4 separate regions of the Homo sapiens genome follow, and regions 1, 2 and 3 are each reported to be linked to region 4. The links are microRNA targets in miRTarBase. Many come from high-throughput screens and were not tested one by one. Region 4 holds a microRNA gene; each other region holds the end of a gene's coding sequence.

Region 1 (7,913 bases), not on the chromosome of region 4:
ACCACAGGACTGAGAGGGCAAAGGGCCCAGAGCAGCAATCTTCCTGGCGCTGTCTTCCTGGGGGCTCGGCTTCTCCCATGTTCATTCATGAGCAGGTCCACTGGGCCAGGCCAGCCCCTTCTTGGTCCCTTCTGTGCTAGCACCTCCCTCCTACTCTTTGCCCCCTACCCCTTTAACCACCAAGACAGGAATCTCAGATATTCTATTTACCGACTGGCAGATTACATTTGAGAATACTTCCTCCACCAGCCATCAGCATTATCAAACTCATTCATCCCTGAATTCAGCAAATATGTGGCAATACATATTTGCTGAATTCAGGGATGCTGTGGACAACAGGAAAACCATCTGATGCGCAGGTGTTTAGGCTTTAGCAGGTTCGTATAGGGGGCTTGCATTGGTTGCCCATCCTGTATCCATTGGCCCCTCTGATTTTGCTTTGGAGAACCACCCCACGTTAGAGCAGCTATGTGATCTCACTGGGACCTACTCTGCCTCTAGGCCAGCACAGGTGATCTCACAGCTTGTTACATCAGATGGGCAGGCCCAAGCCACTTAACATGCGGCTTTCCCCTGCCCACTGTGATTAGCTGAGGAATGGTCCAGTCAGAGTAAAGTTAGAGACTTAATGCTAAGAGTTATTTCCTTTGATACTAACAAGGAAAAAAGTAATGTAGGGGCTGTTTGCATTCCTCTTACGGCAATGAGGGAGAACGGCCTCAGGGGAAAGCTGCCATGTGGCCAGGCATGGTGGCCCACCCCTATAATCCCAGCACTTCGGGAGGCCAAGACAGGAGGATGGCTTGAGCCCAGGAGTTTGAGACCAGCTTGGGCAACATAGTAAGGCCCTGTCTCTATTAAAAATAATAACGGGCCAGGCCCAGTGGCTCATGCCTGTAATCCCAGCACTTCGGGAGGCCAAGACAGGAGGATGGCTTGAGCCCAGGAGTTTGAGACCAGCTTGGGCAACATAGTAAGGCCCTGCCTCTATTAAAAATAATAACGGGCCAGGCCCAGTGGCTCATGCCTGTAATCCCAGCACTTTGGGAAGCTGAGGTGGGTGGATCACCTGAGGTCAGGAGTTCAGGACTAGCCTGGCCAACATGGTGAAACCCCGTCTCTACTAAAAATACAAAAATTAGCCAGGAGTGTTGGCATGTGCCTGTAATCCCAGCTATTCAGGGGGCTGAGGCAGGAGAATCACTTGAACCCAGGAGTTGGAGGTTGCAGTGAGCCGAGATCACGCCACTGCACTCCAGCCTGGGCAACAAGAGTGAAACTCAGTCTCAAATAATAACAAAAGAAGAAGGCTGCCATGGAAAGGGCAGAGCTAAGCAAACTAGAGAAAGGAAGGCAGAGCCCATATCAAACTGCACCTGAAGCCTATCCCACCACTGAATTTTTCTCAGTCATATGAGCCAGTAATTCCTTTGTGTTTGAGATGAACTTCCTTACAATAGAAGGCATCTACCTGACACAGCATAAAACATACACAAAAATAGAAGATATAAGGTGACAAGTGCCATAAAACAAAACTGGAATAAAATACTCCGGAATTCAGAGGAAAAACAAAAAAGAATACTTGAGGGGTTTACCAAAGGCTCTATGGAGTTGACACGAGCAGAGCTTTATTTAATCATAATAGTACCAGATACAAATTACTGCTGTCTTATTTATATCCCAGGGACCAAACTAGTGTTTTTCATATATTGGCTCATTTAATTCTCAGAACAATCCTACACACTGGTTACTGTTGTTCTCCCTTTCTTCCAGAATGAAGCACCCCAGTTCTCTGCTGAGCACATGGGCATCTGCAATAAAGATTTAATTTCCCAGCTTCTCCTGAAGCTCGGTATGGCCACAACACTAAATTCTGCCCGAGGAGATTAAGCAAAATAGTATGGGACTTCCAAGAAATGTTTTTAAAGTCAGGGGCAGGCCTTTCTTCATGCCTTCTTCCTCTTTGCTGGCTGGAACGCAAAGACCATGGCAGGAGGCCAAGCAGCCATCCTGGAAGGTGAAAGCCTCATACTAAGGACGTCAGACAGCGAAATAAGAGCCTGGGTCCTTGACCCTGTAGACATCTCCCTCCCCATCCTGGTCTGTCTGCCTTGACTCCTTTCATATGAGAGAAATAAACTTTTAACTTGCGTAAACCAGAAAGAAAATTTTACAATTTTTTTTCACACACAGTTGAATGGAAGCCAGACTCATACACTAATCTCATCTCCACTTTTAGAGATGAGGGGAACAGCTTGCCCACAGTGACAGCCAGTGTGAGCTGGGTTTCTGTTGCCCAACTCATTGGGGTTCCAACCCTCACCTAGACTGCCCTATGAAATACCTAGAACTTGGTCAGGAGAAAAGATAAGAGGGGAAAATGTCAGCAAAAGCCAAAGACTAAGGGTAGCAGGGGCAGAAGTGAGAGTGGGAAGTGAAAGGTGATATAATTTCCCTATTCCACTGAGCAGGAAGAGGCTGCCTTTGCATCCCTCTGTGTCGGGAGACAGTCTGGGGACAGTCAGCAGGCACCTTGCTGCAGGAGAGCCCCTGCAAGAGCAGCCTTTGTGGAGCTGTCCCTTCCACCCCAGTAGGAGCTTCTCGGACACAGCATGGCCTCTCTCCTTCACTCTGGTGTCTTCACTCAGTACTGGGTCCCAGATTTTTTTTTTTTTTTTTTTTTTTTTTGAGATGGAGTCTCACTCTGTTGCCCAGGCTGGAGTGCAGTGGCTCGATCTCGGCCCACTGCAACCTCCTCCTCCTCCTGGGTTCAAGCGGTTCTCCTGCCTCAGCCTCTGGAACATCTGGGATTACAGGCGCCCACCACCATGCCCGACTAATTTTTTTTTTTTTTTTGTATTTTTAGTAGAGATGGGGTTTCACCATGTTGGCCAGGCTGGTCTCGAACTCCTGACCTCAAGTGATCCACCCGCCTCAGCCTCCCAAATTGCTGGGATTACAGGCATGAGCCACCACGCCCGGCCCGGGTCCCAGATCTCTGAGTCCACCAGAGTGGGGCTCAGAGTCCTCTATCCACCAACCACATGCAGCCATCCAACACGCTGTCTCTCTTCTGGCCTCAGCCTCATTGTCCTTGGAGTGCCAGTCTCTTGTTTAAGCATGGCAGAGCCTTAATACTGGACCATCCACTACATGCTAGAAGGGGAAGAACTCCTCACAATGTAACAATTTTTGTATTTAACTTATGGATATGCTCATTCTTTCTAAACAATTCTTATAAGGAAATTTTAAGTATATTAAAAAATTAGAATAGTATGACCACCCCAACACTGCCCAGCTTCATTAATAATCCACACATCTAAAACCCATCTAGTCCTTGACACACACACAATCATTATGAAACAACCCAAGACATAAATTGATTTCATCCATAAATACTGAAATTATGATTCAAGAGAACTTTTTTTTTTTTTTTCTTAAACCAAGGCTGAGGTGGGAGAACTGCTTGAGCCCAGGAGTTCAAGACCAGCTTAGGTAACACTGCAAAACCCAGTCTCTAGAGAAAAAAAAAACAAAACCAATCATAACCATAGCCCCACTGTCATATGTTTAAATGTTGTTTCCTTAATATCATCAAATATCCAGCCAGAGTTCAAATTTGCTTTGTCCCTTAAGCACATTTTTACAAGATTGATTGGCTAGTTCAGATCAAGAGGCAAACAAGGTTCATACATTGCACTGGATTCACACGTCTCAAGTATCTTTCAATCTCCAGGCTTCCCTTCCCTTCCCTTTTCCTCTTGTAATGTATTTGTTGAAGAATCTAGGTCCCTCTGTAGTCACTCCTCTCCCCATTCCCAGCCCCTGGTAACCACTTACCTGTTTTCTGACCCTATAATTTTGTAGGGCCCACTTTGTACTGATGTACTTCTGACTAGGTGTGTTTATGTTCAAGCATCAGAGCCAAGGCCCAAACCTCTACCCTGGCCCTCCTTCTGCTGTGGCCCAACTGTACCCAGAGCTGGGCTCTCCCGTCTCCCTGCCTGTTAATCCTAGAAGTGGGTGCCGAGGAGGGAGAAACAGGAAGGAGGGAGTTGGGGAGGGCAGCTTGTTACATGGACATCAGGGCTGTTCCCACTAGCAGCAACAGCTTTGTGTTAGCTTGGCTCCAATTTGAATGAAATATTCCAAGGCCATTTTCCCCAACACGTTGTTACCAAAAAAACTCCCAGCATGCAGAAAAGTTGAAAGAATTGTACAGTGAACACCCCTTAAGGAGTTTCTACCATTAACATTTTATTTAAAGGCTTTGGGACTCTGAAGTATAATGTTTGTGAAATGCTATGAGCCAGACCCTCCACACTGAAAATTCCCAGTGTAAATTAATTTGTTAAATGCTCTTAGAATTCCTGCAATAAAGAACACCTATCTAACCTTAGTTATCCCTGTGTTTCCCAAATATATCTTACTTTGGAGCACTTTTTTTTTAGTACCGATTTACATCCTGGGAAATGGTGTTTACCATGCTTTAAAAAAAACTGTGGTAAAATAAAGATAAGATTTACCATCTTAACCATTTTAGAGTGTACAGTTGAGTTGGCATACAGCATTCACATAACTTAACTGTGCAACCAATCCACAGGACTTTTTATCTTGCAAAACTGAAACACTATACCCATTAAACAACTCCTCATTTCCTCCTCCCCCAGTCCTTGGCAACTACCATTCTACTTGTTTCTATGCATTTGACTGCTCTAGATACTTCACATAAATGGAAGCATAGAGTATTTGTCTTCCAGTGACTGGCTTACTTCACTTAGCATCATGTCCTCAAGATTCATCCATGTTGCAGCACATGTCAGCGTATCTTCCTTTTAGAGGCTGAATAATATTCCACTGTATGAATATACCACATTTTGTTGATCATTCACCCACTGATGGGCACATATTGCTTCCATCTCTTAGCTACTGTGAATAATGGTGCCGTGAGTATGGGCATACAAAAACTACCACTAATATTTTACAGTGCTTGCTTCATATCTGTCCATGTGTCCGTCACTCCACCCATCATATTTTTTATGTATTTCATAAGTTACAGACCACAGTAACTTCCCTCAAACATGTCAGTATACATATCAATGACCAGCGTTCATTGTTTTTTTCCAAGTCATTTTGAACTGCCGTAGCAATGAGTAATATAGCCTCAAACGCACACATACACACACAACACGTGCGTCACTACAGAAAACTTTTCCTGGCAGACAGGAAAGGGCCCATTGTTGGTGATGTCATTTTAATTAAGATAAAACCACCACCACCATTTAGTAATAGCCTGGGGTAACAAGGGCTGCGTCACGGACTGCCACTTTTGCCATCCTGCTCAGAGCAGGGCCATGCCTAACCCGTATCTGGGGATTGCTTCAGATATTATGAATCGCTTCAATATTATGAATTACTACAATTCATAATAATTGCTTCAGATATTATGAATTACAATATGGTTCAAAGGTGCTTTAGCAGATGAAGACACAAATGTGTAAACACATATGAATTACAATGCAGACTGCCCAGATGTGTAGCAAGTCCTCTGAATGTTTACTAAACAGTAAGGTGATTCCAGAGGAAGATGCTTGAGGACAATTTGGGAAAACTGACAACTTGAAAACTCAGTCTCTCTAGGCAAGGCCTACTTGCAGATAACCTTGGGAGTTCTGTGCTGGGAGGAAAGCTAAAGGACTAAGTTAGGCCTCTGAATCTGCTCTGGAAGCCTGCATGCACTTGGGTCAGAACAAGCCCATGTGTCAATGTGGGTAAAGATTCCTCAGCTGATAAGCAGGAAAATGGGCAGGGCATTTTGGTCTTTGAGGTTCAAAGCTCAGATGCTCACTGCCTTGGTATACACGCACACACACCCCACCCCCCAGCTGACGGCACAAGAGTATACAGATGCAATAGTCTAAAGTACATTGTCCAAATATGGATGGCCATGAGCCACATGTGGCTATGAAGCACTTAAATGTGGCTAGTCTGAACTGAGATGGGCCCTATAAAATATTTCAGTAACAGGTTTTTATACTGATTATAGGTTGACATAATAATATTTTGGATATACCGTATTAAAGGAAATATGTCATTAAATTTCACCTGTTTCCTTTATTATGTGGCTACTTGAAAATTTTAAAATTACATATGTAGCTCACACTATAAAACACAGATTAGAAATATTGTATAGCACTGACCTAGAAACCTCCATTTAGGTAAAACATCTTAACCCCTTTGGAAGCAAAATATGTTAAATAACAGCATAAACTCCCACCAAGAAAATCCTCACCTTCCTCCTTTCAACACATTTATTATATACAGCTGTCACTGCATTGTCAATCTGCCAAATGGCTCTATGTTCCAACAGGGCTGGAGTAGTCCCCTGCTCACACCAGCCTTCACAATACTTCCCATGTCTTCCCTGTTAACCTCTCTCCACCCAGCACCCAGGCTCCCAACTCTCCTGGCTGCCTCCAGCCCTCAGCTGGCACCACTGACATGCTGTTTCCAGTACCCTTTTCTTCTTTCTGCATCCTCCCTGGGGGACATATATCCCTCATCTCGTGACTTCAGCTGTCACATAAATTCAAATGTTTCAGAACTCTATTTTTTACCTCCTACATCTGTCAGTTTAAATGTCAGGATATTTTACTTTCAGTAAAGCCCTAAAAAGACAAATCTATGTACTTTTAAAGAATAAAAGAAATGACTGGCTGCAGCTCAAACCTACAACTGCTTGCGAAACTCTACAATGTCTGGCAGATGCTAGAAAGAAGGGGATCAAGACAGAGCACACTTGGCGTGGTATGCTATCTATAGAAAATGTTAAAATAAAATTAAGTAATCTAGGTTTCCTCTCTTTATTTTCTACATCTACTCTCTGAAGAGGGCAATAAATAAGGAAATGTCCCAAAGAGGGACAAATTAAGTCCCAAAATAACACAAAATTGGGCAAATCCAGTCATGAAGAAAGAACAGAGGTTCTTAAATTGGGACACACAGAGGCAGGTCTGCAGGTCTAGGAATCTCTGAACATATGTGCAAAATTCTGGGTATGTGTGCATATGTTATATAACAAAGCGAAGGGTCCATATAGCTTTCATCGCATTTCAAAGGGTCTAGCACTGAAATAAGGACTACTGCTATGTGACTTAAAAAATGAAACTCAGGCTGGGCGCAGTGGCTCACGCCTGTAATCCCAGCACTTTGGGAGGCCGAGGCAAGCAGATCACCTGAGACGAGGAGTTTGAGACCCGCCTGGCCAACGGTGAAACCCAGTCTCTACTAAAAATACAAAAATTAGCCGGAATTGGTGGTGTGCCTCTAGTCCCAGCTACTCAGGAGGCTGAAGAAAGAGAATCGCTTGAACCTGGGAGGTGGAGGTTGTGACAAAGCAAGACTCCATCTCAAAAAAAAAAAAAACCCAGAAACTCAATTCAGTTATGAAGGTAAAGATGACCTGTTTACATGATAATATTTTAAGATACCAGTGACTGCAAGCATGTAGTTATTAAGTCCATTACAGTGCACATTTATTGACTCTGTGTATCTTCACAGTGTGATCTTCACCACAGCTTGCAAAGTGTAACCACTCAGCACCTTCTGCTTCCTTCTGTTCAGTTTTTCCACTGCAATTCTTCCAGCATAATTTTCTGATAGCCAGTGTATGACTTTGGCTAAAACAAAGATAGAGAAATCATGAAATGTTTTTCCAATTAATGGTGTAAACATGAATGGAAGTTAAAACCTGAAAATTGAAATGTACAGGTTTTAAAATCGCATCATTAACATTTTAGCCATTTTATTTTAACCTGGAAAATATTTTACTATATTTACTTAAAACTGCAAGACTAAATTTTAATCTTACTCACTGGCAATAACATCACCAAAATGAGCAAGACACAGACAAT
Region 2 (8,085 bases), not on the chromosome of region 4:
CTTTCAGGATTTGCTTTGCTTTTGGACAGTATGATTATAATGTGTTTCAATGTCACACTGAGTGTCTCTTTGAGTTGACCCTACTTACAATTCATTGAGCTTTTTGTATGTGTAGATTAATGTCTTTCATTATGTTTTCAGCCATTGTTTCTTTAAAAATTTCTTCTACATTCACTCTTCTCTTGATTCTTATTAGGTGTATGTTGGTACACTTGATGGTGTCCTGCAGGTGTCTTAGGCTCAGTTAGCTTTTTTGTTGTTGTTGTTTTCTTTCTGCACCTCAGAATGGGTAATCTCAATTGACCTATCTTGAAGTTTGCTGATTTTTGTCTTCTTCCTTTTTAAGTCTGCTCTGGAACCCTTCCAATGAATTTTTTATTTGTGTACTTCTCAATTCCAGAACTTCTATTTGGTTCCTTTTTATAATTCCAGTCTCTTTACCAATATTGGTGAGACATCATTCTCCTGGTTTCCTTTAGTTCTTTGACCTTTCTGAAAATAATTGACTTAAAGTCTTGTCTGTTAAGTCCAATGTCTGAGCTTTCCTCAGTTTCTATTAACAGATTTTTTTTCTATGTATGAGCCATACTTTGTTTCTTCGCATACCTCATAGTTTTTGTTGAAAACTGAACATTCTGAATATTATTTATAATGTGGCAAGTTTGGAAATAAAATTATTCCTCCACTGTGTCACCTAGGCTGGAGTGCAATGGCAGGATTATGGCTCACTACAGCCTGGACCTCCCAGGGTCAGGTGATCCTCCCACCTCAGCCTCCTGGGCAGCTGGGACTATAAGTGTGTGCCACCAGGCCCTGCAAATTTTTAGTATTTTTTGCAGAGATGGGGTTTTGCCATGTTGCCCAGGCTGGTCTCAAAGTCCTGGGTTCAAGTGATCCACCTGCCTCAGCCTCCCAAAGTGCTGGGATTACCGATGTGAGCCACTGTGCCCAGCCTGTTATTTTCTTGAACTACATTTTTAGTTTTTTAGTTTGTATTCTTTGTCAGGTGTGGCCACTAAGTCTTTGGTTAGCTTAGTGGTCAGCTAGTGATTCAAAAGATTTCTTTGAACACTTGGAACAACAAAATGCCTCGTAGCATTTGCAGATGTGTTCTGTGTTGGGACACACCTTTCAACCTTCACCCATGCAGTTTATAACTATGCCTTAGCCTTCACTTCCTGCTTGCACGGAGCCTGAAGGTCAGGCAGAGGTGACAGCATAGGGCCCTCTCAAGTCTTTTTAAGCACATGCCCAGCCCTAGGCATGTGTATGGTCTTTCAGATTCCCAGGAATATGTGGAATCTCTTTAAAGTCCTTATTCTCACCCAAAGAATCTTATTTCCTAGCCTTTCCTCCTGAAGCTTTTCAATTTGTCTCCTGTTTGCTCCAAATGTTATTCCTTCCCCTAGGCATGAGCCACTAATACACTGACCTTGAAACGTCTTTCCAGGCTGCCATCTTCACTTTAGGAGAGCTCCAAATTAGGCAAAATAAAAGAAAGGCATTTGAACCAGTCCTTCAGGGAGCAACAAATCAAATCAAAATCAACATACTTCTTGAAAATAAGGTCTAATCTGCTACCTCCAGTGACAGGAACCTATACAGGGAATGAGGGATATTGTTTTTGATGCTGCTGCCATGCTGGGGAGTGGGGGATGGGGCCAGGGTAAGCTAAAACACAACAAAGCTCTCTTACTAAATCCAGCTTTTATTCTTAGGTATTCACCTGATTGCTGTAAACTTTCAATTCGTTTCCAGAGTTCCCATAAATTTGAGTTTTTGCCACCTTATTTGCTGCTTTTGTGGAAGGACAGACTTGTGGAATTTCCTATTCCATTTCGTTGACCACATTAAAGTTTTAGAAGCTCTCCTCTAGTCTACCCTTCATTTTAAAAAGTCAAAAAGACAGGAAGTGACATATCCAGGGTCACACAACAAATCAGGGGCTGAGCTGAGATCAGAATAAGGATGTTTGACTCTCAGGTCAGAGCTCTTTCTGCTTCAGGACTTCATCAGCTCTTAGTGTTGAGAAGGAGTCAGGCTCAAGCTAAACACCAATATTAGGCCAAGGGGCAGCTTTCCAAGGAGTAGGGGCTGAGGGTAAGAGTCCTTGGTATACCTGGTGGGCTTGACTGACTCCTTTACTGACAGGGGACCCTACATGAGTCCAGGTTGTGGACTGAGTAATGATGTCCCTATCCCTTAGAAAAACACAGGCAGAGAGCTTTCAGATTTGATGGGGGTGAAAATGTAAACCTTTATCTTTCTGAGGACATGTATTTAGCTTGATGTTTCTAGGTCTCATTCCACTCCATCTCGGCCAGGGCAGGAAAGAGCCTACAGCAGAAATAAGGAGCCAGGTCCTAAGGTAGGGCTGTAACTCCCTGCCAAGGCCAACAGAAAATGGGCATGGCATGGCATTAAACCACCACTTTGACCGTGGGCACCTGCAAAGGTTCATCTTTCAGCTCCCTCTTCCCAAAGCTAGGAGTGCCTCATCTCATCTCTCATCACCTGACTGAATTCCAAGCAGACTGTGCCATCTGCTCACCTGCCCTCTGGAGGAACACCTCTACTTTTGCGGTGTTCTCTGTGTGAGCACAGTAGTATTTAGATAAGCGTTAGATTACAGCAGGTTACAGATGCAGTTTCCCAGTCCCCACACCTGCTCAAAATGCATGAGGGTCTGACCGCAGGAACTGCTCTTTAGCAAGCTCCCCTGATGATCCTGATACACACTCAGGCTTGAAAACCACCACTTTAGGACCATCTACCCAGCCACAGGGTGAGCACTCCAAGGTTTCTTTCTTAAATTTTGCACCTGAGACAAATGCCACCAGGACTAGGGTGAGGCGAGTGAGGCTATCTGTCTCAGGTGCAAAACTATTTAATAGTGTTTCCTCCAGCGCCCCCACAGCTGCTGAAAATTCTCTCAGGGCTGAATTCATCTGGTGCTTCTATTTTAGAAGTCAGACTAGATGTGTAGCATGGACTGGCCTTGACTAACATATCCAGGAGGCAGGAGAAGACCCATTGTGTTCTATCCCAGAAAGATGACCTGTAAGGTTGCACATCTTTCTCCCTATCTTTTTTGTCCTAAGCATAATAAACAGTGTTGATCCCAACCTCCCACTGACCTTGGAAGGCAGTAGGTGCCTTTGCCTCTGGGAAGATCATGAGGCATTCATGCAGTCCTCCAGCCCATACTTAACATGGGTTGGATCTCTTGGGAGTGACCATGAGGGCAGCGAGAGGAACAGGAAGGCAGGGAGAAACAGGACTAGGACAAACACAGGTGTCAGGTCCACAACTATGCCAAATGTCATGCCCAGGGTCAGGTTCCAGCCCATGCTGAGGTTCGAGGGGACTGGGTGGATGGGCGATAGCTGAAAGAAAACCTGGCGGGCCATAGGCAGGTAAAATGTAGTTTTATTCAGCAGCTATCTCATCAGCAGCTCTCACACTGTCCACCTTTACCTAGGCTGTCTTCTCCAGATCTGCAGCTCCTCTCAGCAGCCAGCTCTGTGGCTCCTGCCACCCCCATGCTTGCAGGTGCACTCCCTGGCTACAGGGTCAGCGGCTTAACTCTCCCTCTGGGCACAAGCTGAGCCATGTCCTGGCTCCCCTCTATCTATCTGCCAGATGGTCACTCTCCCTTACAGGGGTCAATAGCTTCACTCTCTCTGGGTGCTAGTGCACACCACGTGGAGCCATGCCCATCCGAGCCCAAGAACATCTGTACAGCGTCAGCAGGGCAGTTATACCTTTTCCAAACAATAGTGGCTTTGAGCCAAGTATGAACTTACACAAGCAGGTTATATAACAAGTGGAGTATACGCCTGTGACCTAAACTCGCTGAGTCACTCTGGCCTGGATATCCACCTTGGTCTATTCCTTGACCAAAGCACATCCATGTACTTTACAACAGGTGGTCTCCAAGTGTGTAGACCAGGGTCTCAAACCCAAAGGCCTGCAGGAGCCAAATGGGTGACATGGGCTTAGTGTAATACAAGACGGAGCCTATAGCAAATAAGGAGTACAGGCCTAAAGGGGCAGCTGCAACTCAGCTCCAGCCATGCAGGAATGCAAGCCCCATAGTGCCAGAATTTCTGAGTTTTCAAGAGAAGCCAGAATTCCAGATTTTTAAAAATATGAAATCTCTCAATGTTTAAATGTTGGCAACAAATTCAAATGTCTAAAAACACTTTGGAAACCAAAGTAAATGTGTCTGTAGGTGCAATATTGCCTGCTGGGCACCAGGCTGGGAACTTTGGAGTAAACAGGGCAAGGTAATGTCACAGAATATGGTCACATCAGAGCACATTGGTTCTAGGCCCCATCACAATTCAGGAGGCCCCCAGGGTCACCTTGAGTTCATGGCAAGTTGTATATGCCAAGCACCCCATCCCATCAGGCAGGTCCCACCTGGCACCCAAGGGCAAGGGGCCTGCCCTAGCAGAGGAGTTCTTGGGAGAGCAGCAGGGATGGGGCTTCAGCTTGGGCTTGAGGCATGGACTCTGACGCAGAGCTGACGTGTTGACCAGGACCTGCCATCAATCTCAGGTAGACCAGGCTAGTTCTCAGCTCATGGCTGCTCCACACCCTTCGGATGTCATTCTTCCTTTATGTTTAGGGGGTAGTCCTCAAGCAAATGTCTGCAGATGAGCTACTCCCTGGGGCTCCTGCCAGGACCCAGCAGGCTTGATCTAGCCTAGTCTCTCTGGATTCTCCCATTTCTTTTTGTTTTTTTCTCATTTGAGACAAGGTCTCGCTCTGTTGTCCAGGCTGGAGTGCAGTGGTGTAATCACAGCTTACTACGGCCTCAATTTCTTGGGCTCTAAGGATCTTCCTGCCTCAGCCTCCAGAGTAGCCGACTATAGGGAATGCACTACAATGCCAGGTAAATTTTTTTTTTTTTTTGAGACAGAGTCTCACTCTGTCCACCCAGGTTGAAGTGCAATGGTGTGATCTCAGCTCACTACAACCTCTGCCTCCTGGGTTCAAGTGATTCTCCTGCCTCAGCATCCTGTGTAGCTGGGATTACAGGAATGTGCCACCATGCCTGGCTAATTTTTGTATTTTTAGTAGAGATGGGGTTTCACCATGTTGGCCAGGCTGGGTCTCGAACTCCTGACCTCAGGTGATCTGCCCGCCTCACCTCCCAAAGTGCTGGGATTACAGCCGTGAGCCACCACGCCTGGCCAAATTTTTTAGTAGAGACAGGGGTCTCGCTGTTGGCTAGGCTAGTCTTGAACTCCTGAGCTCAAGTGATCCTCTCACCTCAGCTTCCCAAAGTCCTTGGATTACAGGCGTGAGCCATAGTGCCTAGTCGATTCTCTCTTTTCTAAACCTCAACGCAGGAGGTTGGAAAAGGAGTGGGTGGAGACCCCTGATGCAAGGTAAGCTCTAGCTTCTGGACATGACACCATAATTCTCAGAAACTCTCTTATGGATTCTCTTCCCTCACACCACCAACCAACGGGCACAGGGTCCCCAGAGACCAGAGCCAGGAGCCCCTTTCAGCCTGGAGGCACCCTGAGGGGAGGCACTGGTCTTGTGACTCTCTGGGTTGTCCCCATCCTTCTCTCTGGCCCCCGCCGAGGGGCACCAGGAATTAGCACACACCCTTCTTCCCTCCTGGGACCTGGGTGAAGGACTGCATTCTTCGCACCACACCTTCAGTGGACTTCACTGCACCTGCAACCAACCAAGATCCCTTTGCCTTTCAGGTGTCTGGGCCTCCTGCCTGGATTTCGGGAACCTCCCTTCCCATGTCCTTACGAGTCCCTGCAAACTAGTGTATGCTCAGGGTTTCCTGCACACAAATCTCTACGTAAGGTTACATGAACTTTCACTGGCTGATAAGGCCAGACCTCTGAGCCACAGGGCAGAATCAAGCAGAAGAAAACAAGTTGGTACCAGGAAGACATTTCCAGACCATTCCAGAGCTGGCTGACTCTTAATGTGGAAACAAGTTTTGGCTACAGACATTCAGGTTTAAGGCACATACCACAAATTACAAGAAGCCCTGTCACTGACAGGGAACTGGCTTTGTTCTCGTGGTTTCTGCAAGGAAGATGGAAGGAATGACTTTCTGGCCCTTTTTTTTTGTTTTTTCTAAAAAGGAGTGAGTTTGGCAGTAACAAAGCTCGTGACACACTCACCAGATGCACAGGCTACCTTCTCAGGCACGCCTCCCTTTCTCTCCTCAGCGAGGACACGGTGCTTCACCCACCCAGTCGCCCTCACCAGAAATGTGTATGCAGCAAACAGACTTGTATGCCTCTGTCTGGCAATGACTGTAAGAAAAGAAAATATGCCTCCAAATAAAAATATACAATTACATGACGAAATGAAGCCAAGTCTTAGCCACAGGCAAAGGGGAATGATTGCATGAGTCAGAAAAATGAAACATCTATTTTAGCAGCAAGAGGCTGTGAGGGATGGGGTAGAAAAGGCATCCTGAGAGAGTTCTAGACCGACCCAGGTCCTGTGGCACACTATACGGGTCAGGAGGGGTGGAAGACAGGCCTAAGCTCTAGGACGGTGAATCTCGGGGCTATTTGTGGATTTGTTAGAAACAGACATTCTTTTGGCCTTTTCCTGGCACTGGTGTTGCCGGCAGGTGGGCAGAAGTGAGCCACCAGTCACTGTTCAGTCATTGCCACCACAGATCTTCAGCAGAATCTTCCGGTAATCCCCTGAAGTATCTCCCTGGCCACAGAAACAAGGAAGACATCCGTTAAGGGAGGGACAGTCACTTTCAGCCTTCTGGGTCCTGATATTCAGCCCTGAGCACCCTTATAGGGAGAAAGCCCCACCCTGGGGAATTTTCTCCCACTGCAGGTCCTGCAGCAGGCGTCACAGACCTTAAAAAATGCAGTTCAGCCTTCTCCAGGCCCCCATCAGAAGACGGAAAGCAGCACTCACCCCAGCTATCCACATCAAATGAATACCCACAAAAAAAAATTATAATCATCCTAAAAACCACTTCCCAGGGCTAACCAATATTGCTGTTTTCCCAGTGCATTTATGCTGCCTTAAATTGGGGTTACCAATGTAACGCAACACAGTGTCCTGCTCAGGAAATGCAATCTCCTCACACATGACTGTCCAGTGGAAGGCTCAGACTGCCCAGGTCCCAGGGATCTCTCCTCTGTCTGAGGCCACTACACTTACTCTAAGAGTGCAGGCTCGGCTTGGCTCATTTCTAATCATTTCCTTCCACCCTAAGCAACTTGAGGGCAAGGCATGTGGCTTCTTCCAGATGTCCATAGCTTGCTGGCATGCAGGAGATACTCTGTAATGAATTATTAACTCTCTTTTTTTTTTTGAGACGAAGTCTCACTCTGTCACCAAGACTGAAGTGGAATGGCGTGATCCCAGCTCACTGCAACCTCTGTCTCCCGGGTTCAAGCAATTCTCCTGCCGCAGCCTACCTAATTAGCTGGGATTACAGGCAAGCCCAGCTAATTTTGTATTTTTAGTAGAGACAGGGTTTTACCTTGTTGGCCAGGCTGGTCTCGAACTCCTGACCTCAAATGATCCACCTGCCTCAGCCTCCCAAAGTGCTGGGATTACAGGCGTGAGCCACTGTGCCCAGCCTAGAATCACTAATTCTCTAACAACAGCTTCATTCATACAGCCAAGGAAACACAGTGAGTTTCCTGTGATGACATGCCCACCATCATCAAATGCTACTGAGTCTAAGGTGGGAGGACGTGGTCCCCATGGTGCAATTGCAAGGCTCATGTGAGTTCAGAATTTGAGCGTTAGACCACACAGCTGAGAATGTATTTTGTCAGACTGGCTCTGCCACACAGCGATACAACTGTGGCTAGTGTTTAATAGACACTTGACCTGCACTGCCTCACTCAATACTCACAACATTCCCAGGAAGGAACGATTATTTTCTCATCTTAAAGACAATGGAGCTGGGGTTCAGGGAGATTTAAGGGAGCCATTCAAGGTCACACAGTTAGCAAGTAGAAAAGCTGGACTCCAAGTGGCGTGACCCCCAGGGCCCTCGCTCTGAACGGCCTTACTATGTGGCCTACGCCATAAAGCTGAGTGCAGGAAGTGCTT
Region 3 (7,345 bases), not on the chromosome of region 4:
GGGAGGGAGCTCTCCCCGCCCACCCCCAGGAGCCCCCGCCGCCGTCCAGCTCAGGTCCCTGTCCACTTGCGCGCCGCCGCCGCCGAAAACCCGCAGGCGTCGGGGCATGGGCAGCCAGGGGCTGGAGGGCGTCCCTGGGACGGCCTCCCTGCAGCTCCCCAAGATAGGTGACAGAGTGGGGCAGGCGGGGGCGCGGGACGGTGGCACGGAGCTGAAGGCGAAGGTGAAGGTGAAGCTGGACGGGGTGGGGCCAGAAGGGGTGGTGCCGACGGCCTCGGGCGGAGACCCCAGCCGCGCTCTGGGGTCGCCTGGGTCTGGGGCTTAGGCGGGGGGCCCACACTGGGGGCGGGGCCTATGGACTGTGAAGTCCGAGGTCGTCGGTAACTGGCGGGCGGGCGTCTTTTGCAGAGGCTGCCGTAGTAATCCACCCCAACGGCCGGAGGAGCCGCCGGAGCCCGCCTGCCCGCCCGCCGCCGAAGGAGAGGAGCCGCCTGCGCAGCCCCCGGGCCTTTGAGCTGCTCCCAGCGCTGGTCCAGAGCCGATCCTTGATCCGGGTCCCGGATCGTGGATCCGGCCGCCTAGGGCTCAGACTTGCGGCCCCGGGTTGGGAGGAAAACCCGTTCCGGAGCCGCCTGCTCCCGGAACCGGACGGCACAGGGCGTTCTTGCCCACCCCAGGGGCCAGGCTTGCGGAGGGGGAGCCCGCGGAGCGGCCAGACTCCCCGGGGCGCTCAGCCTCCGGCGAGGGTGGGAGACGGCTTTGTCCTGGGGACACTTTCCCTCTGGAATCTCAAGACGACGTGGCACACATTCCACGTGGGTGCTGCCGCCACCCCAGTCGGTCGTGGCGTGCAGCTGGGAGCCCTGGGCTTGGGGGTGGGGGTCGAAACAGTACTGGAAGAGGCGGAGGGCGGCTCCTAGCTCCGTGGACTAGGCGGGGGAGAAAGGAAGCCTTTCTGAGAGCGGGCTAGGCCGGCACTGGAGAGGCCGGAGCCTTTGGAACAAACCGTGCGGAACGCGTCCAGGGGCCTTCCCGCCCAGCCTTTGCCAGATCTCTCGTGCGGTTCGGGCAAAGCCGGGGTAGACCTGGGCTATGCTCAGTTAGGGGTTGCGGGATCCCCGAGTGTGGGCGGGACTGGGACACCCTTTGGCCTCTGTTTGTCCCCTTTCCAGTCCTCCACCCCACCCCTGGAGCCCAGCCTGGGAGCGCAAAACCCAAGAAGCGGCCAGAACGCACCTCCGGCTCCGGCGGACGCGCGACCGTTGTGCACCACCAGGGACCGCCGCGCCTACTCTGCACGGGAGCAGGGACAGCGCTAGATTTCGTGTACAAAACCTGTGTACCCCTCTATATATATGTTACATAGAATGTATATATGTTGGGAACATGCTCGCTTCTCCCGTGTGTCGCCGCCGTGCGTCGTGCGCCCGCAACAGAGCCCCAACCGGGCCTTTGCCGGGTAAGGGGCTACCGCGACGCCACTTGTCCACGCAGCCACCACCGGCCCGGGCCAGTCCCTGCCAGTCCGTCCGCCTGTCCGTCCGTGTCCTCAGCTCTGTCCACGCTTCGATAGGCCTGACGCAGCCCCCAGCCCAGGGCCGCCCTAGCAACTTCCTGTACATATGACTGTAAAATGGTAAACGTGTGTATTATATCTGGCCTCGTTATATAGTGTATATATATGTATACATATACATATATATAATATATATGAAGACTGTAAATGTTAAGACGACTAGTGTTCTTATTAGTATATTGCTTCACACTGAAGATTGTGTGTATCGAGCTGTTTCTAAAAGATGTTTATTTTCCTTAAGAGTAAAAAACAGTCATTGCATTCAGAAAAAAAAAAAAAAAAAAGTCAATAAAGATACAACGATTGTTTTGGAAAATCTGCAGCCCGTGGATTCCGACCAGATTCAGCTGGGAGCCGGGCCAGGCTTTAGGTTGGGGAATGGGAATGAAGGGAGGGGCTGGGGGGGGGGGCATGAATGGAGTCAGGGAGTCGGCCTTTCACAGAACAGGAAACCTCCCCCGCCCCTGTGCCCCCTCTCCAGTGTGGCGGCAGGTCGGGAGGGAGGAGGCTTCTTTGCTGTGAGATGACCAGGGGCCGGGATGGGGGAGGTGAGACGTGCCAGACTTCTTGCAGGGAGACCCAAGCTGTAGCTCCTGTCACACAACAGGTCCTGGAAGTCAGTCCATCCTCCCGTGCCACCCAGGGACCTGATGGGGACAGAGCTGGGAGGTGAGAAGGGACAACTGACCCCATGGAGGCCCTAAGGGTTGACACAGCCCAACCATGTGCCCTGGGAGCAGGGGGAACAGGTAGGCTGGAGGCCATACAGCCAGCCCTCCCCACTCCTCCCACTAACAAACAAACATCGGGAAGAGCTAAGTTAAAAGTTGTGTACCTTGTGGCCGGAGGGGGAGGGGAAGCCTTTCCCTAGGTGCTGGGGGAGGGCCCAAGCACTCTCACTAGTCAGCACATCCATCAGCTGAAGACACAAAACCCAGATTATAAATAATTTCATTTTTAATTCTCTGTACAAAACTTCTCAATCTATGAAAATAAAGTTTGCAAAAGGCAAAGTAGCACAGGAGCCTCAGGTCAGGAGGCTAAGCACGCTGACCTACACTATGTACACGTCTCTCTCCCACGACGGAGAGAGAGGCCTCTGGGGCAGAGCCCTGCTTGCAGTCCGGGAAAGCCAAGTTGGCTTCCGTCAGCACAGGGAAATGTACCCCTCTCTTCCCTGTACACAGGAGGAAAAAAGCCACTAAGGTGCCTGCAGAGCAAGGAGGGGGGCCCCCCAAAATGGCTCGGCCCCTGCAGTGCCCCGATCGGCCACCAGAGGTCAGCACCATCATGGCCGCCGGTCTTAGGGTCAAGATCGCGCCCCTCGGGCCTTCCACCGCGAAGGCACACAGCAGCCGCAGGTCGAACTGTGGAGGCCAGAGTCTCTTGCACTGCCTTCGGCCTTCAAAGCTTCGACGCAGGACAGAAGCTGCACGGGACCAAAGTGGCTAGAGACAGGGGTGCTGAGGCCGGGGACACGGGGTCTAGCTGGAAGTGACAGTGGTCCCACCGCCCAGGCGCATGAGCATCTGCTGACAGTCGTGCAGCAGCCGGCGATCGCCAAGCTTCTCGAGTGTGCGCGCCGCCTCAGCCAGCATGCCCACGCGCTGCCCGGGCGCCGACAGGAAGCCGGGGGGCAGGTAGCAGGAGGCCAGCAGCAAGGCCTCCGCGTGCTCCCGCCGCGTGGGCCGCGGCTCCAGCTCCGCCACCGCGCCTGCGCACACGAGGATGTGTCAGGGATGGGTCTCAAGCTGGCCACGCCCCCGCGGGAGCCCTGCCCACACACAAGCCACGGCACCAGCCGCCTGTACCTGGCACACAGGTACCTGGCGGGGGCCTGGCGGGTTCCCCTCTCCCCACCCTAGTCTCAGCCCACACACAAAGTCCACAGACTGAGTCACGCACGTGCAGTCATGTATCCCACAAATGACAGTCACCCCACTGATTCCTTGTGAAAGGAATTGTCATCAGGTAACCATCAAGAAGATGCTTGGTCTTTTTTTTTTTTTGAGACAGGGACTCTCCCTGTCACTCAGGCTCACTGCGGCCTCCAACTCCTGGGCTCAAGCTGTCCTCCCAACTGAGCCTCCCAAAGTGCTAGGTGTGAGCCACTGCGCCAGGCCTGTCTGTCCCGTCTGACACACACACAGCCTCCCTTGGTATCACATCCCATGTGCGCCCTTCCCTGCTGAGCAGACAGCACATCCCTGGTCAGCAGCTGCCCCCTCACCTCCTTTGCCACCGGGGCCTGCCCGCCGCCTCAGACTGCGGTCGAGGAGCTGGTGTGTCCGTGTGGGGCTGGCCCCCGCCATCAGCCGGGCCGTGGCCTCATGTAGGAACACCTGGGGGCCAGGAGAGTGGAGGCTCAGGGCTCTCCATCTCCACCACTGCCTGACTCCCCGTCTTGAGGACAGGGCCATCGGGCACTCACCCTCCGCATGGCGGGCCGGAAGCTCTGTGCCAGCCGCCTCAGGCTGCTCAGGTCCCGTTGGAAGCCACGCAGCTCAAGGGCGGAAGCCTGGGGCCTGCTGCTGGTGCCCTGGGCTGCTGGGGCCGGGGCCGGGGGCTGCTGCTGCCGCCACAGGCTGGTGCGCACCACAAGAAGCAGGTCACACAGGAACAGCTGCACGGCCTGGGGGTGGCAGGCAGGGCAGGGGTCACCAGGGCTCCAGCTCTGGGAGGGGCAGGATGGGGGCCCGTGGTGCCAGGGGCCGGCTCCGGGCTGCACTGCCGAGGCACTGCACCCGCCTCACACACGTGCAATGCAACAGCAATGCACCGCGGGGCCGCCCGCCTCTCTCGGCCCCCACACCCGCCACCGGCCCGGGAGCAGCTGTCCAGCCCTCCTGATGCAGGGCCTCCAAAGGGATCCTACCACACCATCCACCCCCCTCCTCCCAGGGATGGGGAAACTGAGGCCAGATAGGGGCAACCCCTCTCCTCTGGACAGAAGCCTTAGCCAAAAAGCAGGGTCTGCTGGACCCCCTATCCTGTGCTGCTTGGGCTAACCCCATGGTCTTCTGCAGCCCCTGGGGGCTGGGGAGAGGAACCAGGGAATGGAAAGCTGAATCCCCCAGCCCTGCCAGGCCCCTGACCCCACCCCTCACCTTGTCAATGGAGCTGCTGGCTGGTGTGGTAGCCAGGCTGTCCTGCAGGTACCCACTGGCCTTCTCACAGATGGTCAGGCTGGCTGGACCAGACTCTGCCTTGGCACAGCCCAGCAGGGCCCGGGCAGCCTTGAAGGAGTGCAGAGCTGCCCTGGGCAGGGGTCTCCTGTTGGGACCAGGGCAGAAGAGTGCCAGTCAGACCAGTCCACAAGCCCTGGCTGAGTGCCCCCCACTTCCCTGGCTCGAGTTCCCTGAGGAAAAAAGGTGGTGACTCCTCCTGCACAGAACAAAGGCTGAGTGAGGCACAGTGCCCAGGGGATGAGGAAGGCTGAGCCCGGGACCAGGCAGGAGGAACCTGCCGTGCACTCACTCAGACTCCTGCAGCACCCGGGGCAGGTGCTCCACCAGCGGGCACAGCCGCTCAGCCGCCTCCTCATCCCGCCGCAGCCAGTGGATCACCACAGCTGTCAGAGAGGCCCACCACTTGGCCACCGGGTCTACGCCTGCAGAAGAGGGAGGGTCCCCTGAACCCTCAGTCACGCTGCACGGGGGAGCTGAGAAGGGAGCCAGGACAGGGGCCGGGGACTCACCGGTGGTGGTGGCCATGCTGGAACTGATGGAGAAGCTGTAGGCAGGAGCCCCCGCAGCATCAGAACAGCTGTTCAGCAGCTGCAGGTACCCGAGGGCATCCGAGAATTCCCTGTGGAAGGAGAGAGCTGGCTGTCGGAACAGATGGCAGGGGTCCTAGGAGGGTGCTCCCCACCTGCCCTCCAGAGTACAGCCTGGCCCCTGGCTCTGCAAAGTGCCACTGTCTCCTCCCACAGGCTGGTGGGGAGAGGAAACTCAGAGAGGAATGAAGCGTGCATGGCACGCACGGTAGCCCAGCTCTGGGCTCTCTCCACAGGGTTGAGGCCAGAGCTATTCTCAGAATCCCGCCGGAGGGGCCTTGCCTGGAGGAGGGCACAACGACACTTACTTGTCCCCATCAGCTGACCCAGGGCTGGGGTTGGGCTGGGTCACACAGTTCAGTGCTCGCTCTAAGAGATGTTCCCGGAATAGCTGAGTCACCTGGGCCAGGGGGTCCACTGTGGAGAGGAGGAGGTGAGTGGGGTGGGGAGCAGGGCCCCACCCTCCTCTCCAAGCTAAGGGCTTTTTCCTGGGTGGGCTGGGGCCACACCTAGGGCCACTGGGAAGTGCCGGCATGCCCCTGGGTGCAGCCCCTGCCAAGGACAGGGGAAAGCGGGTGGACATAACTATCACCAGCACCAGCCTTGGCCAGGAGACAACACTGAGGCCTGCCCTACACTGCTTCCAAAGGAAAACCGACTTGAGAAGATGCCATTGTTGGCTCCGCTTCCTTACTCCACAGCGGCACTGCCTGGGGTCACTTCTCCAATTAGCCATCTGCCCATCAATCCCTGCATGTGCTTCTGAAAGCCCCAATGGGAACGAGAGGCACCCAGGCCTTTCCCTTCCTGCAACCCCCACAGCAACAACCCATGGCAGGGAGAAGGACTGGGGTGGCCAGAGACAGCCAGAGATTCAGGCGACAAGGGACAGGACAGGAATGAGGATGAGGGACAGGAGAGGGGACAGGGAAGGGGTAAGAGAGCACCTGGGTTCCCGGCCAAGCTGTACAGGCTCTCCCATGGGGTACTGAGCACGGACCAGTCCCCATCCACGAAGAAACGGTGGCCCACGGGGTGGCAGAGCCACTGCATGGCAGGAGGCACTGAGCCACTCTGTGCCAGGCAGGCCTGGCGGGCACTGCTCAGGAAGAAGCGCTGTAGGGGAGGGTACTGGGCTGTCACAGTGGACACAGCCTGGGGCCAGACCCCGGGCCGAGTCCCAGCTTGGCCTGGAGTCCCCCTGGTAACCACTGCCACATCCCGTGTAGCTCTTACCCAGGGAGCCTCTGGAGAGAGCTGCAGGGATAAGCCCCCAGCCCCCCAACCCACTCACTGTCAGAAAATGCAAGGCCCGTGGGAGACTGGTCTTCACTCTCAATGCAGCCGCCACATAGATCTCGGCCAGCGTCGCCACAGACACGGCATCCCCTGCACACTCTGCCAGGTTCAGGGCACTCAGCGCCAGGTTGGTGGCAGTGAGGTGCCCGCCTGTGTGCTTCCCTGGAAGGCAAGCAGGCATGAGGCTGTGGGTGGAGCACAGGCAGCAGGGAGCACCTCGGAGCCCGCCCCACGCTCAGTCCTACCCATGGTGTGCAGCTGGTGCAGCTTATGGTAGACCAGGGCTGCGTCTCGGGCGCTGGCGCTAGCATCCACTCGCAGAGCACAGTCCTGCTGCAGGCCCCCTGCCCGGCCTGCCAGCCAGCGGCCCACCCAGAGACGCTGCAGCAGGTGACGGATGAGGTTCCAGAGGAGGCTACAAGCCAGGTCCAGGTGGGAGGTGGGCAGGGGCCGGCCCAGTGCCCGCAGGGCCAGCCACAGCTGCTGGGCAGCCTGGGCAAAGTCTCCCTGTGGATGAGGGTTTTCCAGGTGAGAAAAGTGAGGTCAGAGCAGCTGCCCCAAAGCTCAGAAGAGCCGTCCACAGCAGGCTCTGGAGGGGTGGTGGGGGTCTGCGGATGCGTGGCTAGGCACAGGGAGGACGGGACAGATTCATGGTGTGCACAGGGAGCAGGAACAAGGGTTGACACCCAGCACCT
Region 4 (8,019 bases):
AGACAGACAGGCTGGAAAGGGAATGAAGGTGAAGCCAAGGAGGGACTCCTCAGGGACTCCTCAGGCCAAGAAGGATGGGCTCTAGCCCAGGATCAAAGGAGCTGTACAGGAGGAGAGTGACCCTGGAGGAATGTTTAAGGAATGCAGGGAAGGGGTTGGTAGGTGAGTGAGCAATAGGCTGTAGGTGGAAGGGTGTCAGGGAAGGTCAGGAAATACAGGGGCAGCAGGTTGGAGTGGGGCTGGGGGTGGCTGAATGAATGGATGATGGCTAGGGCTCAAGGACCTCATCAGTGAGGGAAGAGACAGTATAGAGCATGGCAGAGAAGGGGAGGCTGGGACAGGTGTGCAGGGTGACAGAATGGGAAGCAACCCATGGACTGAGGCATGAAGAAGCAGCCAGCGGAGAAGTCCAGAAGGCACTGTCCCTGAGACCAGGCTGAAGGAGACCTCCACTGTTTGCCTTTGTTGCCTGCCATTTGGGGTTCCTCTCTGGGTTTCCCCCTCACCCAGTCACTCCCCAGGGAGAACCATGCCCTCCCTTTCCCCCATGTCTGGCCACCCCCAGGATTGGGCAGGTAGGGAGGTTGGGATAAAGTGAGTCACACCTTTCCCTGCCCCCCTCCCATGTTGCCAGAGCTGGATTTGGGGCCGGCAGGGGGTGAGGGCATGGTATTCCTGGCCGCGGGGGCGGGGGGGGGGGTCCGGGGGCCGGGGGAGCGTCGCGCTGACGGCAGCCAGAGCCTGCGATGACGGGGCTGCTATAAATAACTTCTTGGAGGCTCCCACACCCAAGCTCCCCTCCCGCTTTCCCACTGCTCTCTACTCTTCATCCCCTGCCCATCTCCATACCGCTTTTGTATTGCTATCCTACCCCTCATTATTCCATGCCCCTAGCCCCCTTTATCTTCTGCCCTCCTGCAGTGATTTTTTTGCATTCCATCCCCTCTTAGCCCTCACCTCGGTTCTCCCGGCCATCTCTCCAGTTGGCCTTCCTCCTCTTCTCCTGTCCTCTGTCTTGCTGCACATACCTTTGTCTCCCCCTTTCTTCTTCTTGCCCTACCTCCTCTTCTTCCCTAGTCCGTGTATTCTGTCTTTTATCCTCTTTGAGCTCTTTTCTGCCCACAGCTTTCTCCTATTTCTTATGCTTTTCCCTCACTCTTTCCCCTGCTTCTGCTAAAACTTGTCCTCTTATGCTGTGTTCATTCATTCTTTGAATCATTAAATGTTTATCAGGCACTAGCCGTGTGCCAGGCCCAGGCTAGACATATCTCTTCTCTGTGCCTTCACTTCTTTACTTCCACTTTTTCCTTTATACTGAGGCTCTGGTTTCTGGGGTTACCTGGAGGTACTACCTAGAAGTGCCCCAGGCCCACTTTGTTCTCTCCTTTTTTTTTTTTCTTTTCTGCCATGGTCCATTTCTGGGTTGAGATATTTCTAGATGTCCCCAGTCCTCGCAATCCCTTAGGTGTGAGATGGTGGGAGTTTCTTTTTTTTCCTTTTTTTTTTTTTAAATAGAAATAGGGTCTCACTGTGTTGCCCAGACTGGTCTTGAACTCCTGGGCTCAAGTGACCCTCCCACCTCGGCCTTTGAAATGTTGGGATTACAGGTGTGAGCCACCAGGCCCAGGTGGAGCAGGGGAGTTCCTTAAAGGATTCTGATTTTTCTCACATCCCTCACGTCCTTCCTGATAGGCAGGGTTTCTTTCTGTGTCTGTTTGGGAAGGGTGTTCAGGGGGCCTTCTCTCCAAGTCTCCATCCTGGAACAGACTGATGATGCAGGGTACCTATGTGTCTAAGAAGAGTAGGGGGGCCGGGCGCGGTGGCTCATGCCTGTAATCCCAGCACTTTGGGAGGCTGAATCACTTGAGGTCAGGAGTTTGAGACCAGCCTGACCAACAGGGTGAAACCCCGTCTCAGCTAAAAATACAAAAAAAAAAAAGAAAAAAAAATTAGCTGGGTGTGCTGAGGCAGGAGAGACGCTTGAGCCCAGGAGGCAGAAGTTGCAGCAAGCCGAGATCACACCACTGTACTCCAGCCTGGGCGACAGAGCAAGACTGTCTCAAAAAAAAAAAAAAAAAAAAAAAAGGAAGAGTGGGAAGCCCTGATCCCTTCCTCTCCTGAACCTCCTGCCTGCCAGGGCCCGGCTGATGCAAAGCTTTAAGGAGTCACACTCTCATGAGTCCTTGCTGAGTCCTAGCAGTGCAGCTGAGGCATTGGAGCTCAACTTGGATGAAGATTCCATTATCAAGCCAGTGCACAGCTCCATCCTGGGCCAGGAGTTCTGTTTTGAGGTACTGGGTCTGGTGGGCTGGGGAGGGCCAAAGGACAGGGGTGATGGAAGGTGGGGGGCAGAGAGGTCTAGAGAAAGTGGCACAGGTGGGGACATCAAGGAAACAGAAACTTCTGGGACTGGAGGAAAGGGTAGGCCAGGGAGGAAGAGAAGGTAGCAGAGTCTCCTCCCCTCTGTAGCCCTTTCCCTCAACTCCACACTCCTTTCTAGGTAACAACTTCATCAGGAACAAAATGCTTTGCCTGTCGGTCTGCGGCCGAAAGAGACAAATGGATTGAGAATCTGCAGCGGGCAGTAAAGCCCAACAAGGTATTGGGGAATAAAGGGGACACAACCTGTGCAGGGCAAAGGTTGCACCAACACGGGAAGCTGGGGGCCTAGGGAGGAAAGTGAGTTAAAGGAGGAGAGGCTTGGGGAAGGAGAGGATTGAGGTACAGTGTATCTGGACAAGCAGGGGGAGACCCCCATTATTCTGAGTCCCCCATTTCTTTTCGCTTTCTGTACTGCTACCCTGCCTTACGATCTCTTTCCCTGCCATAGAAGTCATAGACTTACAGAGTTGATGGGGCTCTGGAAATTCTTTAGTCTAGCTTCCCTGCAGGCAGGAATGCTTCACTAATACCCCGCAGGACACATCAAATACACTTAGCCAAGTTTCTGTACCTTGGTTTCCTCTCTAAGACAGAGGGAACTGGTGGCAATGGGTTGGATTAAATGATCTCTAAGGTCCCTTTGGCACATAAATTCTATGAGTCTGTTCTTCCCAAAACTTCATGCTTCCAGTTCTGTCAGCTATTCTCTGTATCCCAGTTTCTAGCAAGCTTACAGTCCTAGTCACACTCCTCTGGGGGGAACTCTTGTGTCTTGATGTCCTTAAAGAACTCAACCCAAGATGCTGACATGATCTGACCTATGCAGAGTACAAACACCATGTTCCCTTTCAACACACTGCAATATCACCTGAGCCTTACCATTAGCTTGTGCTCAATTGTATCCCCCCAGGCCCTTACTGATTCTTTTTTTTTTTTTTTTGAGACAGAGTCTCACTCTGTCACCCAGGCTGGAGTGCAGTGGCGTGATCTTGGCTCACTGCAACCTCCGCCTCCTGGGTTTAAGCAATTCCTGTGCCTCAGCCTCCCCAGTAGCTGGGATTACAGGCATGCACCACCACACCCGACTAATTTTTGTATTTTTAGTAGAGACGAGGTTTCACCATGTTGGCCAGGCTAGTCTCAAACTCCTGACCTCAGGTTGTCTGCCTGCCTCAGCCTCCCAAAGTGCTAGGATTACAGGCATGAGCCACCACATCTGGCCAAGCTTTACCCATTCTATATGCAATTCTTTTTTCACAATTTCTGATAGTCTCTGCAGGACTTTCCAGTTCCCTTCAAATTCTACATTAATATTTTTGGCTTGTTATTCCAGCTTTTGAAATCTTTCCAATACTGTTTGTGTTGTCTAGTGTATGTCTACGCTTCTACAGTAGCTTCCTGGGGCTGCTATAACAAACTGCTACAAACTGGGTCACGTAAAACAACAGAAATTTATTCTCTCACAGTTCAGGAGGCTGGAAGTCCAAAAGCAAGGTATCAGCAGGGCCACGCTCTCTTTGATGCTGTAGCAGGGAATCCTTCCTTGCCTCTTCCTAGCTTCCGGAGGTTGCCAGCAGTCCTTGGCATTCCTGGGCTTATAACTGCATCCGTCTAATTTCTGCCTCCATCTTCATGTAGCTGGCTTCCTTCTGTGTGTCTCTGTATCCTGTATCTCTGTGTCTCCAAATCTCCCTCTCCATATAAAGACACCAGTTTTTATAAGGTGGGTTAAGGGTCCACTCTAATTCAGTATGGCCTCTTTTTTTTGAGATGGAATATCGCTCTTGTTTCCCAGGCTTGGAGTGCAATGGCATGAGCTCAGCTCACTGCAACCTCCGCCTTCCAGGTTCAAGTGATTCTCCTGCCTCAGCCTCCTGAGTAGCTGGGATTACAGGCACGTGCCACTATGCCCAGCTAATTTGTTTTTGTATTTTTATTAGAGACGGGGTTTCACTATGTTGGCCAGGCTGGCTCGAACTCCTGACCTCAGGCAATCCACCCACCTCGGCCTCCCAAAGTGCTGGGATTACAGGAATGAGATACCATGGCTGGCCTCTTCTTAGTTTGATTACATTTGCAGGGATCCTGTTTCCAAATAAGATCACATTCACAGGTTCAGGGTAGACATGAGTTTTGGTGGGATACTATTCAACCCAGTACACCGTCTCACCTTATGATTGCTGTCTGTATCCCACTTTCTTACTGTCTCTCCTCTTTTGGTGTCTCTCTGTCCCTTCCCCCTTTAACATCATGCCCACCCCACCATGCCAGGACAACAGCCGCCGGGTAGACAATGTGCTAAAGCTGTGGATCATAGAGGCCCGGGAGCTGCCCCCCAAGAAGCGGTACTACTGTGAGCTCTGCCTGGATGACATGCTGTATGCACGCACCACCTCCAAGCCCCGCTCTGCCTCTGGGGACACCGTCTTCTGGGGCGAGCACTTCGAGTTTAACAACCTGCCGGCTGTCCGTGCCCTGCGGCTGCATCTGTACCGTGACTCAGACAAAAAGCGCAAGAAGGACAAGGCAGGCTATGTCGGCCTGGTGACTGTGCCAGTGGCCACCCTGGCTGGGCGCCACTTCACAGAGCAGTGGTACCCTGTAACCCTGCCAACAGGCAGTGGGGGATCTGGGGGCATGGGTTCGGGAGGGGGAGGGGGCTCGGGGGGTGGCTCAGGGGGCAAGGGCAAAGGAGGTTGCCCGGCTGTGCGGCTGAAAGCACGTTACCAGACAATGAGCATCTTGCCCATGGAGCTATATAAAGAGTTTGCAGAGTATGTCACCAACCATTATCGGATGCTGTGTGCAGTCTTGGAGCCCGCCCTGAATGTCAAAGGCAAGGAGGAGGTTGCCAGTGCACTAGTTCACATCCTGCAGAGTACAGGCAAGGCCAAGGTGAGTGTTGTGCCCTCAGGGAAAGGTGACTTGGGAATGGGCACTTGCTTGGGGGTTAGTGAGGACAGGGCAAATTCACGAGATTGGGTTGTGCAGAGGCTGACACTTGGATTTTCCTGGGCCTCAGGACTTCCTTTCAGACATGGCCATGTCTGAGGTAGACCGGTTCATGGAACGGGAGCACCTCATATTCCGCGAGAACACGCTTGCCACTAAAGCCATAGAAGAGTATATGAGACTGATTGGTCAGAAATACCTCAAGGATGCCATTGGTATGGCCCACACTCAGGCCCTCTTCTTCCCAAACCTGCCAGATGTCCACCCCAGACCCCAAGTCCACCCTTCCACAGCTTGATACTTCCTAACCCAGAGTCCTAGGACTCCAGCCTCCAACACCTGATTCTGAAATTTCCCCAACCCTGGCCACCCCCTTCCCTGCCCTTGGAAAGTGTGACCACACCCTCTTGTGCCCCCACCCCCCAGGAGAATTCATCCGTGCTCTGTATGAATCTGAGGAAAACTGCGAGGTAGACCCTATCAAGTGCACAGCATCCAGTTTGGCAGAGCACCAGGCCAACCTGCGAATGTGCTGTGAGTTGGCCCTGTGCAAGGTGGTCAACTCCCACTGGTGAGACTGGGAACGCTGGGCTGGGGGGCCAGGGTCGGGGGAATTATGTGTTCATCTGTTCATCTATCTGTCCATCCTCAAAGAGGACTGAGCACCATTTATGGGCAAAGCATTGTTCTAGGCGCTATAGAGCAAACAGGTGAAAGAGGCCTGGTCCCTGCCCTCAGAGGGCCTCCACCAGAATGGGGACAAATTAGAAGAAAAAAAAAAAAAGCCACAGAGCCATAATGGTGTGTAAGTGCTGAGTAAGGGTCCCCCCAACCTCTGTGTGACATAAGGTCAGAGAGAAGGCAGAGCTTTGAGATAAGTGGGGAAGAGGTGCCCCCTTGGGTAGGCTTTGAAGACTGGTTTAGGTTCTGATATATGGACATAGTTGGCAAGAAAGACATTTCAGAAGAAGGCTGTGAGAAAGGCACATGTGTGATGGTGAAAAGGCCCAGGAGTTTTCAGGGGACATTAAAGTAGGTTAGTAGCAATTACATCAGGTTTAGTGGAGCATGTGCCTCATAATGGGGAGTGGCGGGAGAGATGTCTGGGCAGGAAGATTAGCTTTAGAAACTGGAAGGCCTCAAGGAGTCTGAGGTCATTGGTAGGCCTTGGGATGCCATTAAAGGTGTCAGAAATATTGTGATTTAGAAGATTAATCCATAGGCTGGGCACGGTGGCTCACACCTGTAATACCAGCACTTTGGGAGGCTGAGGCGGGCAGACCACCTGAGGTCAGGAGTTTGAGACCAGGCTGACCAACATGGAGAAACCCTGTCTCTACTAAAAATACAAAATTAGCCAGATGTGGTGGCACATGCCTGTAATCCCAGCTATTCGGGAGGCTAAGGCAGGAGAATCACTTGAATCTGGGAGGTGGAGGTTGTAGTGAGCCGAGATCACACGATTGCACTCTAGCCTGGGCAACAAGAGTGAAACTCCATCTCAAAAAAAAAAAATTAATCCATAAGTAGAGTGTATGTAGTAGAGTAGAGGGATGTATGTTGGGGGATGACTGGAATAGAGCCAGCTGGGGGCTCGGAGGCATGAAAGTCAGATCCTGAATCAGAACAGTGACAGAAGTTAGGAAGGAGCTACTGGAAGGACCCTCTCGGGAAAGGATCAGTAGGAATTGTCAGCTTATTGGAAAGGAGGGAGCATGTCTGTGGGGAGTCACGGATGACTCAAGAGGCCATGAGGCTGGTGGTTGGGAGACCGGTGGCCTCATTGACAACCAGGAAAGTCAGGAGGAGGAGCCAGTTGGAGGTGTGGGGGCGATGGTGAGCTCTGCTTTACACCAGCCGAGTTTAAGGTGTCAGTGGGACATTGAAGTGGAACTGGGAGGTGCGGGGAGTGAGCTCTGAGCCATTCCAGGGACTGGGGATCATGCCTGGGGCACCTCCATCCCCATTTCCCTGGAATCCAGAAGAGTTGGGGGGTCCGAGCTCCCTGTACCTCAAGTGACCCTCCATCTCTCTCCCATCTCTGTCTCTCCCTGGTGTCTGTTTTTCTTCTCCTCCTCTCCTTGTCTCTCTCCCACACCCCTCCATCTCTCTCCCACGTGTCTCTCCCCTCACCTTCTCTCCCCCTCCATTTCTCTCTCCCTAATCTGTCTGTTCCCTCTGCCATGGCCCCCTTCTTCAAGCAGCCTCCCATCTTGCTCCTGCGGTCCCTCCTTCCCTGTCTCTCTCACCCCTGTTTCCACACCCTCACCTCCTACCACCCCCCTCAGCATGTTCCCTGGAAGCTGAGGGTCTCTGGGGCTCAGTCCCGGTCTCTCTCTTTCTCTCTCTCTCTCTCTGTCTCCCCGACCCTTCCCCCCAGCGTGTTCCCGAGGGAGCTGAAGGAGGTGTTTGCTTCGTGGCGGCTGCGCTGCGCAGAGCGAGGCCGGGAGGACATCGCAGACAGGCTTATCAGCGCCTCACTCTTCCTGCGCTTCCTCTGCCCAGCGATTATGTCGCCCAGTCTCTTTGGGCTTATGCAGGAGTACCCAGATGAGCAGACCTCACGAACCCTCACCCTCATTGCCAAGGTCATCCAGAACCTGGCCAACTTTTCCAAGTGAGGGAAGCTTCAGGAGTGGGCAGGGCAGGGAGTGGCAGGGCAGGGAGTGGCAGGGCTGGGGGTCG

What was found. The annotated mature microRNA hsa-miR-5004-5p reads UGAGGACAGGGCAAAUUCACGA and lies in region 4 at 5,337-5,358, shown strand. An mRNA with a match to its seed (bases 2 to 7 or 8) in the 3' UTR can be bound and repressed. Matches are read on the target gene's strand: a 7mer-m8 pairs with bases 2 to 8, a 7mer-A1 pairs with bases 2 to 7 and ends in A, and an 8mer does both.
Region 1: miRTarBase lists ELP2 as a target of hsa-miR-5004-5p. Seed matches in the 3' UTR shown: 8mer at 5,593-5,600.
Region 2: miRTarBase lists ANXA11 as a target of hsa-miR-5004-5p. Seed matches in the 3' UTR shown: 7mer-m8 at 6,214-6,220 and 8mer at 2,268-2,275.
Region 3: the mRNA of RAI1 is a reported target of hsa-miR-5004-5p. Seed matches in the 3' UTR shown: 8mer at 1,545-1,552.

Annotation. Positions count from the first base shown.
Region 1 is chr18:36,174,251-36,182,163 of GRCh38, reverse strand. It overlaps ELP2 (elongator acetyltransferase complex subunit 2), which reads right to left. Exons shown (of 22, transcript NM_018255.4): 22 at 1,607-7,679. The coding sequence ends at 7,523. It overlaps COSMOC (cell fate and sterol metabolism associated divergent transcript of MOCOS), which reads left to right. Exons shown (of 2, transcript NR_134605.1): 2 at 1,774-2,163. Among named protein-coding and RNA genes, the nearest start is that of COSMOC, 9.2 kb to the left of the region's middle.
Region 2 is chr10:80,149,199-80,157,283 of GRCh38, forward strand. It overlaps ANXA11 (annexin A11), which reads right to left. Exons shown (of 16, transcript NM_145868.2): 16 at 1,691-6,714. The coding sequence ends at 6,655. Among named protein-coding and RNA genes, the nearest start is that of PLAC9, 21 kb to the left of the region's middle.
Region 3 is chr17:17,809,562-17,816,906 of GRCh38, forward strand. It overlaps RAI1 (retinoic acid induced 1), which reads left to right. Exons shown (of 6, transcript NM_030665.4): 6 at 409-1,892. The coding sequence ends at 420. It overlaps SREBF1 (sterol regulatory element binding transcription factor 1), which reads right to left. Exons shown (of 19, transcript NM_004176.5): 10 at 6,896-7,157; 11 at 6,646-6,812; 12 at 6,299-6,467; 13 at 5,660-5,768; 14 at 5,274-5,383; 15 at 5,054-5,186; 16 at 4,684-4,849; 17 at 4,008-4,208; 18 at 3,807-3,918; 19 at 1,773-3,290. The coding sequence ends at 3,061. MIR6777 (microRNA 6777) reads right to left here and starts at 3,984; the gene lies at 3,919-3,984. MIR33B (microRNA 33b) reads right to left here and starts at 4,370; the gene lies at 4,275-4,370. RefSeq lists an enhancer at 3,196-3,754.
Region 4 is chr6:33,433,015-33,441,033 of GRCh38, forward strand. MIR5004 (microRNA 5004) reads left to right here and starts at 5,317; the gene lies at 5,317-5,423. It overlaps SYNGAP1 (synaptic Ras GTPase activating protein 1), which reads left to right. Exons shown (of 19, transcript NM_006772.3): 6 at 2,138-2,291; 7 at 2,501-2,599; 8 at 4,654-5,277; 9 at 5,405-5,549; 10 at 5,761-5,905; 11 at 7,715-7,951. It overlaps SYNGAP1-AS1 (SYNGAP1 antisense RNA 1), which reads right to left. Exons shown (of 3, transcript NR_174954.1): 3 at 4,349-4,467. RefSeq lists a silencer at 4,839-5,016.